Homo sapiens: one gene and its partner. The protein of the gene in region 2 purifies or fractionates together with the protein of the main gene of each other region. This does not show direct contact. Each region holds a gene or a part of one and is shown on either strand. Other genes may lie near its edges.

Region 1 (3,500 bases), on a different chromosome or scaffold from region 2:
CTGGTCAATAGATGACTTTTTGGGCCTGAAATCCAAAAGAGGAATGTGGACTGGAAATATAGATTTATGAATAATCAACATAAAGATGTTCATTGCAGTCATGGGTGTAGAAGAGATTGCAAAAGATAATGCATAGAATGAAGTGACAGAGCAAGAATGATCCATAAGAACCACCCCAACACTTAAGGAATTGACATAAATAAAAGGAAATTGAGATGGAGTTGTGAGGGAGGTGTCAGAACATTGAGGAGAGGGTGTGTCACAGAAACCAAGACAGGGGAGTGGACATCTGCACCATAGGCTGATGAGGTGTCAGTAGGACACCATGGAAGATGTTGGATATTTAGCTAAGGAGATATTTAGAAACATTGGTACGAGAAATTTCAACTCAGTTGGATTAGGTAAGAGCAAGATTGTCATAAAAGGGAAAGCTGGGAGTCTGAGAAGACCAAGGCAGACTGATCTCTCTGGAAATATGACTGCGTATGAATGGAGGGAAAGCAGTATAATGTCAGGATGCATTGGGGAGAAGAGGGAGGCAGTCCCTCTTCTGGGACTGCCTCCCTTTGCAAACTGGAATTTGGGTTTGCAAAATAAGATTAGGCATGCTTGTGTACCTTTAAGTGTTGTTGATAAGAAGCCAGCAGAGAATTAGGGGTGGCAAATATTGTAGAGAAAGGACTATGATCACCTAAGCAAATTCACAATACCTGTGAAGGTGGGCTGAGTTGAGCTAGGACATAGGTAGAAATAGGTTGAAAGGATGGCTATAAGGAAAGGTCCCCATCCATTATCACAGAAGGAAAGAATAGGTCAGCCCAGAGTCAAGTAAGTATGCTGATTCACTAAGAAATTTAAAGAAATCTTGCTGATCATGCCTATTTATCAAGGAAATGGAAGGTGAACCCAAGGAGTAAAACCGGGAGAATCATGATGGGATTGCAGTTTTAGGTAAAGTGGAGAGAGCTTGAAATTCATACTGAGCATAATGGGAGAGGTGATTAGCAAGACACAGCAATGCTGCCAAGTGGTATGCACGGCCCTGCTAAGGATGCAGGAGATGTTTGTGGAGCCCCCATGGCGGGTCTGTGTGATTATTCTCCAGCTGTGCCTGGCTTTGGAGCAGGCAGGGAAAAGGCAGATCTTTTCTTTAAAGGTGTTGTAGAAAAAAAAACTAAAAAAAAAAAAAAATAAAAAAATAGAGCAAGATGCTTGAAGCTACTGAAATGAGTGGTTGAAGTAATGGGGGAAAAAGAAACTTAAAAACAAAATCATTTTCTTAGGCTTTCTAAGTAGTCAAAGAATAAGAAGAATTGGAGTTCGCAGGTACAGGGATAGATGGAAAAAGGATAACTGAGCTTATGATTTCAGATCTAAAACATTTTCCACTACAGATATAGTCCAGGGTGTGGGGATGACAACTAAAGTGGTATCTGAAAGGAAATAATTAGATTAATGGGGCTCAGAGGTGCAGGAACTGGAATTTGGGGAATTAAATGAGACCCTAGTATGTTTAGACTTGAAGTGGAGAATAAACCTGTTTCATATCCTATTAATGAAAAGGAGGCTGTCTCAGGAAGTCTGCATTAACAAGGGGAAAGGCACCTAGCGCTCCACTAATGATGAGAGAAGTTTAAGAATGATATTTATTTAACAATAATTTTAAAATGTGGGATGAGAACCACTCATGTCCAGAATAGTTATTTTCTACTCAAGGCCCACCTGAGAGAGGGAGTCCACTGCGGCACAAAAGGTGGATAGAAACACCAACTTCTAAGCTATAAAAGTTTGGATGTTGGAGGTTGTTACCAGTGAAGGTTGTAGGATTTGTTTTCACAAATTAAAAATAAAAAATTCACTATGTCTCATTTCCTGATGTTTTCAATATAGCTCTGCTAAGGAGGAAAATAGGCTGAGTGATTACAAGAGTTCTGTTCAATCCTTTGCTTATGTGGTTTTGAATATTTCATAAAGGAAAACAAAATTTTAGACATTCATTCAACTTGTGACAGATGATTTTTGAAACAATGAAGTAGTATGGGGAAGTTAGCAAATATTTCGGATTTAGCATTGTCAGTTTGATACGAAAGGAATGCACTTTTTCTCCACAAACCTGAGTATGTTTTAAACCTTATCTTTATGCACCTGTTTTTCTTCTAGTATAAATTTTCCCTTTTGACAGTGTGTCTTTTATAAATATACCAATGTAAAATTTAGGGCAAGGTAAACAGTAATATGAAAGCTTAACAGCAGTAAATGATGAAACCTAAATATCTAAAAAGGGAAATGCCTTGTTCCATCCATCTTTTTCTCTTTCCTATTTTATAAACTTCATAAATTAGCAAAATCATTAATATAGTCTTGTACAAAAGTAATTTATTCCTTGTCTTGATATGAGAGGCTTTTGTGCTTTACAGCCCAGCTTCTTTGATGTAAGTTCTAAAAATAGATTTGTGATCACTCCATTTGTTTTCCTTTTCTTTTCTCTTACTAGTCAAAAGAGAAGATGTGTGAGAATACAGAACCAGTGGAAACTTCTTCTCGAACCACCACAACCGTAGGAGCGACAACCACCCAGTTCAGGGTCCTAACTACCACCAGAAGAGCAGTGACTTCTCAGTTTCCCACCAGCCTCCCTACAGAAGGTACCCAAGAGATAGTTTGCTTTTTTTTTTTTTTTTTTTTTTTTTTTTCCCTGAAGGAAGGAAAAATCACTGTGTTGACATGTACTGGAATAGCTCCTACTCTCTAGGTCTCTCTAAAGTTATTCTTTGGCAAACTGGATTTCTAAGGGATTTCCAAAGGGGAAAAAGACAAAATTATTATGAACTAAAAGTAAATGCTGGGATTCTTTTAATGCACTGTGCCTTTTTTTAAGACATAGCTTTTACCATTGATTCTGGCTTCTTGTCCTCTCCTTCCTAGAAAAGAAATACAGATTTCTTCCTGTGTGGCTAAATTTTGTACTAAGCAAATCCAACTTCACAATCACAGGTTAGAAAGGCAAAATGCATATAAAATGTCCGTTGATTCTGGATTCTGAACAATAAATAATTCTATTAATATATAATTCTAATGTTTTCCAGAATGCAGTCAATAAAATATATTGGTCTATAACCTATACAGAAACACTGTATGTGTCATAGAAATTGTCCTTGAAAACAACTATTTCCTCTTCTAAGGTAGGCAGAAATACTAGAGAGTGTTAATGCTTGGGCACAGCTCAGGAGGAAGAAAGTGTATTACCCAACATACGATAATTTTCTATTCTGAATGATACCACCAGGAGGGAGAGGGCAGAAACATAAGACTGGCCACGAATCAGGTTTGAGGGGGATAAATGGGTCTTACTTGTTTATTGTTATAAGCCTCACTTTCTTTGGCTTGAATAAAAAATTAAATATGGAACTTTTAATTGGAATTTAATTTGATATTATAAGGTGAACTGGAATAAAGTGGGGTGGAAAGCAGCTGCTAAGTGCATTTTACTGCTTTTAAAA
Region 2 (2,166 bases):
CTGTATTTTGACTCGCTTACGAATGGGCAAAATTGGGTCCTGAGGATGGGAGAGAAAGTTTAAAAAAATGATAAATCAAGGCCCCTAACTGTTTTTAATAGAGAAGGATGCTACAGAATGACAGGTGGGCTTTGGGGAATCAAAGTAGCTTCTGTGAGCCTGATATTGTTTAAATTTCTGGCAACACAGAGAAAAATGTATGGTCACTTTCCCAGTCTGTTGGTATTCATCAATGCAAGGCTTTAGGCATAAAAGAAGGAAATAAAGCTAGGCCACAAGTATGATAAAAATTGCTAAATTAAAAATTAGAAGAAAAAGTGAAAATATATATTTCCTATACCTGGAAAAGAGATGCTAAGAAAACAAGTGAATGAAAATCCTCCATGTCCATGTAGGGGAGAAAGGAGTGGAAAGAAACAACTGGTATTCTCTGAATTGCTCCCTGAGGAGTCAAATACATACAGTAGGAACTGAGATTATACTCAAGAAAGAAGTTCCTAGAGATGTGGGAAATTAGAGAATAAAGAGGAAAGAAGAGACTTAGAAACCCCCAAATATCTGACAACTGGGGCTCCCTCAAGGCAGGGTCAGGATAGCTCCTTAGTAAATCTAAGTCCATTCTAACGAGATCCTTACAGAAAGCTCCTGAAAGGAAACCCCAAGATCCTTGTCTAAACAATTTTTTTTTTTTTTTTTGAGAGGGAGTTTCGCTCTGTTGCCCAGGCTGGAGTGCAGTGGCGCGATCTTGCCTCACTGCAAGTTCTGCCTCCCAGGTTCAAGCGATTCTCCTGCCTCAGCCTCCCGAGTAGCTGGGACTATAGGTGCCCACCACCATGCCCGGATAATTTTTTGTATTTTTAGTAGAGATGGGGTTTCACTGTGTTAGCCAGGATGGTCTCGATCTCCTGACCTCGTGATCCGCTTCCCTCGGCCTCCCAAAGTGCTGGGATTACAGGCGTGAGCCACCACACCCAGCCATCTAAACAATTTTTAAAGCTAATGTTGGCCAGGTGTGGTGGCTCATGCCTGTAATCCCAGCACTTTGGAAGGCTGAGGTGGGAGGATTGCCTAAGTCCAGGAGTTTGAGACCAGCCTGGGCAACCTGGTGAAACTCCATCTCTATAAAAATAAAAACTGAAATTAAAGCTAATCTTACTGTTTTCTCTCCTTCCTCCTTTTCCAACTCTTCCTCTTTCTCCTTTTTCTCTAAGCAGGATCCTGGGCTGTTCAAACCAGAGAGCTGTAAGTCTAGAACAGGAAAAGGAAGGAAAGGCTAAATCATTCATACCATAAAATAGTGAGTTAATGAAGCTGATCACAAAGAATCTGTCTTCTAACTGTGCCTTTTGTGTACAAGTGGTATTTTCTCCATAAAATGTGATCCCAGATTTCCACCCTTTTCAAAGTCCATCACTATTCAATACACCCTCCCTCCCCATTCTGTTTCTCCCATTCCTCTCTCCACTCATCTGCCCATCCATCCTAGATACTGGGTCAATGACATTCACAAGAGCCTCCTATTAAAGAATCCAGAATTAGCCTGATGATAGAGAATATAAAATAAAGAAAAACATGGGTTGCTGCCCTCATGAAGGAATCCCTCCCATCCTTCTCCAGTCCTCAACCTCCATTTATCCTACCTTTTCTTTCCCCATTACTGTTAGATCCGTTGAATCGGCTCCAGAAACCAAACAAGTTAACCCGTTCCTAAGGGAACCAAGAAACAAAAGCATCATCCACTACCCTTTCAGGCGCAGCTTTTGCCTTCTGTCTTCTGGAATTTAGTTATGATGAAATTCTGATTCATTTTCCATACCAAAATTATCATTATTATTATTTTTGAGACAGGGTCTTGCTCTGTCACCCAGGCTGGAGTGCAGTGGTACAATCTTTACTCACTGCAACCTCCCCATCCCTGGCTCAAATGATCCTCCTGCCTTAGCCTCCCAAGTATGTGGGACTGCAGGCATGCACCACCATGCCTGGCTAATTTTGTATTTTTTGCAGAGATGGGGTTTTGCCGTGTTGCCTAGGCTGGTCTTGAACTCCTGGACTCAATGGATACACCTGCCTTGGCCTCCCAAAGTGCTAGGATTACAGGCGTGAACCCCCTGCCCAGCCCTCATTTTCCATACTATTTTCACTTGAAATTACACATTAGGCTTA

The links. The genes of interacting proteins can lie anywhere in the genome.
Region 1: the proteins of ZCWPW1 (region 2) and PLXDC2 purify together in Homo sapiens (affinity purification with mass spectrometry; one large-scale study listed by BioGRID and IntAct). This does not show direct contact.

Annotation. Positions count from the first base shown.
Region 1 is NC_000010.11:20,214,932-20,218,431, forward strand, and holds part of PLXDC2 (plexin domain-containing protein 2 isoform 1 precursor), read left to right. Parts: intron 1-2,494; coding exon 2,495-2,645; intron 2,646-3,500. UniProt on the Homo sapiens protein: May play a role in tumor angiogenesis.
Region 2 is NC_000007.14:100,402,538-100,404,703, forward strand, and holds part of ZCWPW1 (zinc finger CW-type PWWP domain protein 1), read right to left. Parts: intron 1,708-2,166; coding exon 1,641-1,707; intron 1,249-1,640; coding exon 1,157-1,248; intron 40-1,156; coding exon 1-39. UniProt on the Homo sapiens protein: Dual histone methylation reader specific for PRDM9-catalyzed histone marks (H3K4me3 and H3K36me3). Facilitates the repair of PRDM9-induced meiotic double-strand breaks (DSBs). Essential for male fertility and spermatogenesis.